2 linked regions of the Homo sapiens genome follow. The protein of the gene in region 2 purifies or fractionates together with the protein of the main gene of each other region. This does not show direct contact. Each region holds a gene or a part of one and is shown on either strand. Other genes may lie near its edges.

What was found.
Region 1: the proteins of GJA3 (region 2) and KLHL13 purify together in Homo sapiens (affinity purification with mass spectrometry; one large-scale study listed by BioGRID and IntAct). This does not show direct contact.

Annotation. Positions count from the first base shown.
Region 1 is NC_000023.11:117,920,247-117,925,263, reverse strand, and holds part of KLHL13 (kelch-like protein 13), read left to right. Parts: intron 1-4,893; coding exon 4,894-5,017. UniProt on the Homo sapiens protein: Substrate-specific adapter of a BCR (BTB-CUL3-RBX1) E3 ubiquitin-protein ligase complex required for mitotic progression and cytokinesis.
Region 2 is NC_000013.11:20,139,387-20,144,052, forward strand, and holds part of GJA3 (gap junction alpha-3 protein), read right to left. Parts: intron 3,920-4,666; 5' UTR 3,903-3,919; coding exon 2,595-3,902; 3' UTR 1-2,594. UniProt on the Homo sapiens protein: Structural component of lens fiber gap junctions. Gap junctions are dodecameric channels that connect the cytoplasm of adjoining cells. They are formed by the docking of two hexameric hemichannels, one from each cell membrane.

The sequences.
Region 1 (5,017 bases), on a different chromosome or scaffold from region 2:
ATTTGTTTATCAAATTCCTTTTAAATACCTGACAGTATCAATGTAGCTTTTTTTCACAATAGCATTATATTTCACTTGAAAGCTATTGACATCCAAGTAATTTTTATACAAATTATTCATAGCTTGTCTGGTTTCCATGTTATAATCCTGTAATATCAAGTCATATTCTATTCTGTTTTAATATGATCATTTTAAAATTTATCAAACTCATTAGATGTTTCAGACTTTCTTTGTTTCCTGGTATTAGATATGTACCTCTCTCTATTTAATAGAGGTTGAAGTTTTGATACATTGGGTAAGTTTAATACAGTGAAGAGAAAAAACATGTTTAAAAACATTAAACATTAAACATTAAAACATTAAACATTAAAAATAGCATTAAAATGCTATTTTCCAGCATCAAAATAGCATTAAATGACGCTATTTTTCCAGGATATGGAGAAGAAAATAAAGGAAGATATGGGGAGATTTATAGAAGAAGAAAGGGAAATATTAAAGAAATTGAGGACAGACAAACCCCTCTTAAATCAAACCCAAGGCACAGAGACAGAAAAGTAGAGAACTAAGATAAGTGTTGAGATAGAGAGACTGGAAAGATGATGAGTTTAAATCAACAGAAGCAGTTTTAAGGACATTCTGAAAAACTAATTAGAAACTGAACAATTTGCCTAAAGCAGAGCTGCATAGGTATATGGTATACTAGCATATGGAAACAGACAAAAATGTTCATGTAAATCTTTCAAGAAGAGTGAGTACAAGTTTGGTGAAAGAAAATGATTTTACAGTAAAAGGACTTATTTCGAGTGTGCAGGAATCTTTGAAAGGCTTCTTAAATAGGGGAAAAGATTTATGAGTGAAAGCAAAAAGTAGATATATAGAAGGCAGATGAGAATTTTGGAAGATAATGAACCTCTCTCTTTTTCTTTTAATGTATGCATACTTCACTAGAAGATTAGAGAATAAAAGGTGTTTAGAGAAATGACTGCCTTCTTGTACACAACAATGTGTATAGTCAGAAGGAGCTTCTCTTTAGACAGAACTGGGATATCTGGAAAATAATATACAAACAAGATGTTTAGAATTTGTTTGAAAACAATCTGAATTGACAGATATCATTTGGATAAAGATAGACATAACGTAGAATAAAATTCACTAATATGGAATTGGATAGTGGGGTCATTCATTTATGCATATAAAAATAAAGGTTATGAAATGTTTAGAAAGGGACACTGTATGTTGTGAAAATAAATGTAAAACCTTACAAAAGCAGATAACTTGCCAAAGGTAGATACATTAAGCGTGGAATAAAAGACACTCCGAATTTGTTAAAAATGCTCTAGGTGCCTTAACTTCTTTTCTTTTGGGACACCAGATTATACTGAGAAAGGTTAAAGGATTTTTTAAAAATGATAGTGTAAAGGGACACAAAATGATAAAATCTGTGAAAAGAATAAAAGCTCCCGGTGTCTTAGCTGAGCAAAGCTGTCCAGATCTTGAGCATTGATTACATACCTCCACAAGCAGTTTGAATGGAATATGGACAAAACAAGAAATTACACAGCTGACGATACATGATGCACAAGCTACTCCTCTTTTCAGAGGGAAAAAAAAGTAATATGTAGTAGGAATGGAACATACTGACATTATTCAATTCCAATTGTAAAATATTTGCAGGAATATTTTAAAGGCAGGAGGCTAGCAAATAAGCCAAGAAGGTTTTGTTTGTTTGTTTGTTTTTGTTCTTTAGTGGAAGAAAATAATGGATCAGATACAATCATTGCTTTTGAATAAATAATCCAGAATTTCTTTATAAAGATATTGTCTACGTATGCTTTAGAGAAGAAGAATAAAAAACTATTTGATAAATAAACATAAAGGGGGCATACAGTACCTAGACTCATCTCATTAGTATCTTGACATCTCTTTTTTATGCCAATGCCCAAGGTATGTTACTTTTCCCAAGAAAAATCAAATCCTTTAACTTGCCATTAGCTATTCAAAACTTTAAAAATAAATATCCTTCGAACCAACAACTCCAGTCCTGAGAATATCTCCCACAGATATACTTAGACAGCTAAGTGTATGTACAAGGAAGTTAATTGCGGCATTGCTTATAACTGCAGAATTTGAGGGAAAACCTGAGTGTTCAACTAAGCGGGAATGGATAAATAACTTATGACATGCCCCTACTGTAGATTACTGTGCATGCACTAAAAGAATGAAATAAATCCTGTGCACTGAGATAGAAGACTATCTGTGTTATCTGCTCAAGTGAATTTTAAAATGCACAACAGTATGTATAGTAACCCACTTTAAAGAGGCCTTTATATATTTTAATACAAGCATAATGTAGATTATGATATATAGAGAATGAGGTCTTGAAGTATGCTTACTAAACTGTTAACAGTGGTTACTTCTAGTAAGTGAAAGAGGTAGCCTTTAAGTTTTTAACTTATATCCTTCTGTATTTTGACTTCAAAAAACATACAAGCACATATTTAATTTTTTAAACCTGAAATTTATATGAGGGATAAAACAAACACAAGTTTGGGAGCCAACGTTTTCTCCCCAACTCCTGGTTCACTACCTTTTCTCTTACCTTAACCTTTACCACTACCACAAACTACCACAAACGAACACAAACGAACACTTTAAGCACAACTCATTTTATTATTGGGAGAGGTTTCACAAATAAGTTCCTGGTTTCCAGTTAACTTGTTGCAAAGTTTACATCCTACCCAATGTGACTACATGGCTTTAAAGTTACCAGTGGTAGCTTCTGAGTAAAATTTTGTTTGTTTGTTCATGCGTTAATGGAACATATATTAAGTACCAACAGTATGCCAAACACTGGGGAATTCAAAGATGCTAGTCTCTCAACTGTTTCAGCTGATGCTTGACTATCCTCTCCCACACCCTAGTGTCCTCATTCACTGCTTCCCAATACTCTACATTTGAAAGGTGATTCCCACAAATTTATTGCAATTTAGACCCCATATATCAATGCCGAGATCGCGCCACTGCACTCCAGCCTGGGCGACAGAGCGAGACTCTGTCTCAAAAAAACAAAACAAAAAAAGAGCTGAAGTGACTCTTCTCATGCCTTCAGCATGAGAATATTCCCTTAAAATTGGCATCTCTTTTTATAAGATGAGCTATTATTATTTTACTTCTACTTTTCTAAATAACAGAGACAGCAGACGAATTAGTAATGGAAAATAAAAATAGTGGCATAGGATATATAATGTTTGGGTTTACAAAGAAAAAGGGGCATTTGTGAAAGATTTGATATTTGTTAACATAAACATGTCAATCATTGTTGGAAAAAGAAAAATATGATATATAATCTTGTTTTAAAGTGTATGTATAATGTATAAATATTTTTGGAATAAAAATATTCATCTCTTTCCCTAGAGGGAGAGTGGCTGGATCAGATCATCTCTTTGAAGTTCCAGTTCTGTAATTCAAGCATTTTCTTTAAAAAGCTTTAAAATTAAAATGAGAAGCTTAACTAGGGTTTATACTACACATATGTGTAGGATCAATATTTTTAAAACTGCATTCTTAATATGTTATGCCTTTTGCTCTTTAAATCTGTGAAACAAAACATAGTTTTATTTGAAGTCATTAAAATATGAAGGGGACAGAGTAATCAATGCTGTTGGTTCTTACTGTATTATATTATTAGAAAGCAATTTGTGTATTTTGTGTATCTGTCTTCCTGGTTTTTTATAATGAAACATTTCTATCTTTGAAACTACAGACTCAATCTTGCCAAAATGTTCATTTTTTGTATCATTGTTAAATTGCATATTGTTCCCTTTTGGTGTACTTTAGTAGCCTGTTACAATCTTTTTAAATTCGTTATTCTTAATCGACAAATAAACATTATATATAATTTGTCATGTAAAACATGATATTTTAATCACATCATGGTAAATGGGGTATCCATCCCCTAAAGCATACATCTCTGTACCCACAAAAATTAAAAATAAAAGATAAAAATTGAAAAACATGATGTTTTGAAATATGTGTATGTTGTAGATTCAACCTGTTATAATCTTAAAAGTGATTGTCATTCTTCCAACTTATATCAATAGAACAACTGTCTATTTGTCGTTAGTTGAGACCATCAGGGTGTAGTGAAAAAGCTAATCAACAAGGATTCTTCTCACCAGAGCTCTGTCACTCCTCTGAATTGTGGCTGCTAGCCTGTTAATTCTCCACTAAACCTTTAGGCATTTGGAGACAATTAAGTCTCATGTTGGGGTTTCCTGGGCTTTTTTTTGTTTTTTTTCAAACAAAGATAATTAAGTCTCAAACTTGAAACTTGAAAGATATTTGGCCAGGCAGCAGCAATGTACTGAGTATAGGCTTCTCAAAGAGATGAAGTAATACAATTAGTAGAAAGAACTATCGTGTACTTAATACAGTTGCTCTCTACTTTTCTTTCTCAACCTCCCCCAAAACAAAACAAAACCAAGATGCTTCAGTCAAGCACTATAAAAGGACTATTAAATTATCGCGAAAAGGAATGTTAAGACAGTCTAATACTCTCATTCTGCAGATGGGAAAGTAGAAGTGCACATTGTAATTATTTTTCAAAATAAGGTAAAAGCTGATAATTGTGTAAATAAGCAAAAGTATATACTTTTTCCTTAATCGTTTTTAACCTAAATTAGTCTTAATTTTGTGTTATTCCTACAGTGAAAGAAAACATGCATTGTCACATATCAGGAAAGTTGTGCAGTTATTTTTTCTTCTCCCGAATATTCTGTTGGCTTTATGTTCCACATATGTTGCACCACATTAATATTCAAACAATTTTAGCACACGAAGATTTGTAACCTCATTTTACCTTGATTAGTGACTCAACTCATGTTCTTGTTGTAGGGCTTTGACCAGCTTCGACTTGAAGGATTGCTTTGTGATGTGACCCTGATGCCAGGTGACACAGATGATGCTTTCCCTGTGCATAGAGTCATGATGGCATCTGCTAGTGATTACTTCAAGGCTA
Region 2 (4,666 bases):
ATAGGTCTGGAATCTTGCCCACAGAGAGAGGCAATTTCTATTTTTATTGCATGTTTCAATGTCTTAAAGGACTAGTTGAGTAGAGAACAATTCCACACTGCCTGAGAGAGAAGGACCCAGCCTTTAGAATCATGGATACCTCAAAGAGCAAAAGGATGTGAAACATGCGTTCATTTCTTACATGAACTGAAATCAGTATGCTAACCTGAAAAAACACCACAGGCACTGTTCTATTGCAAAACCTCACTTCTTTATAGATTAGTGATTTTCAAGTAGGTGAATCTAATTCTACACTCCTATCCACTCTAAATGGACCCACTAGACTATGGTCAATGGTACAATACTGGCATTTCCATAAACATATTGTGACTAAATTCAATTTTAAAATGTAAAAACTAGATACAATTTGAGTTCTCATGCTCATCTCCAACCCCACTCAAAATCAAATTGTGGGTAAATAAGAAGCTTGTTACTGTTATGAACATTTATTATGGTAGAACTTAAAGAACCAAGTATTGACATCCACTTGTACTTGAGCTGTACTTGTGCTCTTGGATGATTGCTATTGCATTTTCTAAAATGGCCAAAGCTTTTTATCGGAATGCTTCTCACACTAGGATCTTCTAGCAGCCCTTATCACTCACAAGAACTAAGTCCTGCTGCCCTAGGCCTATGGCATACACTGCATGTAATGAGTGAACTTCGGAGAGAAGTTATGCATCTAGAATGGCTGTAGTTATGCACCAGCCTGGAGAGGAGTGAGAAAGTCACTCACAGTTTTCCAAAGGGCTAATTTCTCTCTTGTCAATCTGGTTGAGAAAGTCTCTGAGGAGACGTATGGAAAAGTTAGCATTTTTCAAGCCTAGGAGCCTGTCCAGTGCATCCTACAGCAAGCAGAATGTACTAACAAATTCTTTGTGTTTGACTGACATGAAAAACTAGTTGCATGCAAGAATCTGAGACTTGGAAATTGCATTCCTTTCATCAGATTGTTAGTGGAGCACCCTTTATGATAGAAAACAGAAAGTATGTTTGGAGTGTGGTCCCAAATGCATCATCGAGAAGTTAATTTATAAAAAGAAATGTATTACATTGGTCTCGCTGAACAAGGGCTAATGATACTCAGTAGAAGTTGGAGGTGAAAAGTGTGAGTAGAAACAGGCTCAACATGACCATCGTTCATTTTATAAACAAATGGTGACCAAGATACTACAGCTGTGTGTGCAGGACAGAAAATTCTGCCGTCTTCCAGCCATGCCCACACACATAAATAGCCTTCCCTGTCAGGACAGCTCTGGTGTGGAGGCAGAATGGGGCATACAGCCTGCATGAGCACGCGCCCTCCCCCAGGCAGGGATCCCCAGACACTTATATTATTTACACTGGAGAAAGCAAACAGGCTGCCCACAAAGAATGATTAGGAAGCTTGAAGTGTTTTATTCTGTACTTTTTAAAAGTGTAGATTGTCATAGATTCATCTGTATAAATAATTTTCCTGGCAACAGTAGTTCACTTTTCACTTCCCATTCAAAATCTTCAGAACTTCTATTTGAATGCACTTAAAACTTTCCCCTGCTTTTGTTTTATATAATACATTCTCATTATAATTAGGTGACTCATGAAATTAAAGAATTTCTTTTACAAGAAAGTTCAAAATCTTTAGTAAAGATGCTAGTAGCATGCATTAGGGCAAATTAGCACTGTCTTGGTCAGCAATCATTCTAACAGTATTTAAAGAAAGAAAAACACTATTTTTCTTTCATTTTTCCTGAAAGAAAGTGGGAGAAAATAGGCATAGCTGCACCATTCAAAGCACAAAATAATCATTTAGAAAATAAATACCTACGGCATACCCGACACACTTTTATGTCAATTTCCTCAACTGTTTAAAAATGGCCTCAGGCGTGGCTGCGTTTCCACCTGCCTTCTGCCAGCAACCTCTGGGGCCCTTGCCCACTGAGCCTGCCTCTGGAGGGCAACTGCTCTTTGTCACTTGTCATGAGGCCTGAAGCTTGATATCCTGGGCTTCACATGCAATTTCGGAAACTCAAATGACACTACATAGACTTGCTGTAAATCTTTTTTTAGTGCAGTTTGGCAAATATCCCAAATGAAATTCAACTCTAAGTTAAAAGTATCAAAGAGATAGAGCTAAGTGCTCTGGCCCAGAGCTAAGACCCTCTGGGCCGCCCAGAGGCTCTGGAGAGCTTAGGAATAGCAAACCCAATTGCCCAGGAGCTAAAGGGACTGCAGGATACCTGTTGCTTTACCACTACAGAACAGTTACCCCCAGAGACAGCCCTCAGCGACCAGATTTCTGGGCTGCTGTGAAGATCTTAAAGGCCCACAACCCTTGTCCCCGCCACCCCCAAACTCAGAAAGTGGGAGTTATCCCCACTGTAACTCACAGTGCTAAGAACAGCAAGCATTGAACACGGAAACCTGATCTCTCCTCCATCGTCCACCTCCTGGGACTCCAGTCGCTCCCACCTCCTGGGACTTTCAGGTTCTATCTGCTGGTGGGAAGTGCACTTTGGTTTTGGTTTCTAAGAAAAAGATCACTACACAGCTGTCTGGAGGCAGGCACCCGGGCACTAGATGGCCAAGTCCTCCGGTCTGGCCCGCCCGCTGCTGGCCCTGCTGGCCTTGCTGGCCCGACCTGGGTCTCCGAGGGGCAAGGGCGGCTGGTGCATCTGGGCCGCGGTGGTCACGGCCTGCTCCTCCTCCTCGGGGGTCCCTGCCAGGGCGCTCCCCTCCAGACTGCTGCCGCTCCCATCCAGCAGCAGGGGCGCCGCGCCCGCCTCAGCCTCGTGCGCGAGTGGCGGGGAGCTGCTGCCGACGGGGCTGGGGGCTGCAGGCGTGGACGCTGCCGGGTAAGCCTTGAGCGCCGGGGGCTGCCGCTCGGCCGCCTGGTTGGCCCAGTTCTGCTCAGTCATCAGCAGGTGGTGGTGGCCGTTGTAGAGCTTGGCGGACTGGCCCTTTCCGCGCGCCTCGGTCAGGGCTAGCAGTTTGAAGTCCGCGGCTGGTGGCGGGGCCCCGGGGTAGCCCACGGCGCGGGCCTGTCCCAGGGGCGCAGCGGTGTGCGCATAGTAGGGTGGGAACCCGATGGCAACGGCGGGCGGCCGGGAGCTGGGGGGCAGGGGCGGGGGATCGGCTGTCCCCAGCGGGGCCTCGGAGGCGTCCGGGCCGAGGCGGCTGGTCACGCCCTGCTTGAGCTTCTTCCAGCCCAGGTGGTAGATCTCCAGCATGTTGAGCAGCAGGGACGCGCAGGCCACCGCCAGCATGAAGATGATGAAGATGGTCTTCTCCGTGGGCCTGGAGATGAAGCAGTCCACCGTGTTGGGGCAGGGCCAGCGGTCGCAGCGGTAGAGCGGCTTCAGCTCGAAGCCGTACAGAAAGTACTGGCCGGCGATGAAGCCCACCTCGAACAGCGTCTTGAAGATGATGTTGAAGACGTAGGTCCGCAGCAGCGCCCCGGCCATGCGCACCCTGCCGCGGTCGTCCCGCGACGAGGGATTGTCCTGCGGTGGCTCCTTGGGGCTGGGGCTCTCTCTCTTCAGCTGCTCCTCCTCCTCCCTCTCTTTCTTCTTCTCTTCCATGCGCACGATGTGCAGCACGTGGCCCAGGTAGATGAGGGTGGGCGTGGACACGAAGATGATCTGCAGCGCCCAGAAGCGGATGTGGGAGATGGGGAAGGCCCTGTCGTAGCAGACGTTCTCGCAGCCCGGCTGCTGGGTGTTGCAGGTGAAGTCTGACTGCTCATCGCCCCACACGTCCTCCGCCGCGGCCCCCAGCACCAAGATGCGGAAGATGAACAGCACGGTCAGCCAAACCTTGCCGATGACCGTGGAGTGCTCCTGTGCATTTTCTAAGAGTCTTCCCAGAAAGCTCCAGTCGCCCATTGCTTCAGATTCCTAACCTGTAAGAGGAAAATGCTCATGAACACCGGGCTGCAACGGCTGAGTGCCGGGTCCGCACCCATGGGCGGCGGCAGCGGCCTGGATGGTACTGGGATGGGGCTGATGGGCAGCTTCTCCACAGGACAGGCATCGCAGCTCCCCAGGACCTGGACGAGCAGGCACTACACAAGTGCAAGCGTCCATGAGGAACCACAGGTTAAACTCTTCATTTCAGAGAGGAGGAAGCCAGAGCCAGAAGAGAAAATGCCCTCCTCTGGCCTCCAGACTGCTCAAGCCCTCTCCCTGAGGCTGACCCTACAGGAGCTCTGGGGCTCTGCGGCCCCTTAGGCCACTTCTGAATCATGACCTTTCTGTTCAGGTGGGATTAGAGCAACCTCTTCCCAAATTGCTGCCATCCCCATGCCCATGCCACCTTCAGAACTTCTGCCATGTTAATCTGATACCTCTTCTACTATTTGCTTTTTCTGTCTTCACATCAACTCTTTATGCTTAAATTTATCTCAACTAGGAAAGTTTACATTACTACTGTCAATGGAAAATCGGCACTAATACCTTCAATGGATGGTAGCTTTAAGAGTAAATATATTCCAACTCAGCCAGCTTTATTTTGGAAGTAAGGAAATAAAGACTTACTCCCCTTTTTTAAAAAAGAATAAATTCCTTGATGACAATGAAGTTGATACAGTCTATGGGATATTGCTTGCCAAAAGCTCTGGATGTAAGCTCTCTTGTTACAAAGAGGAAGA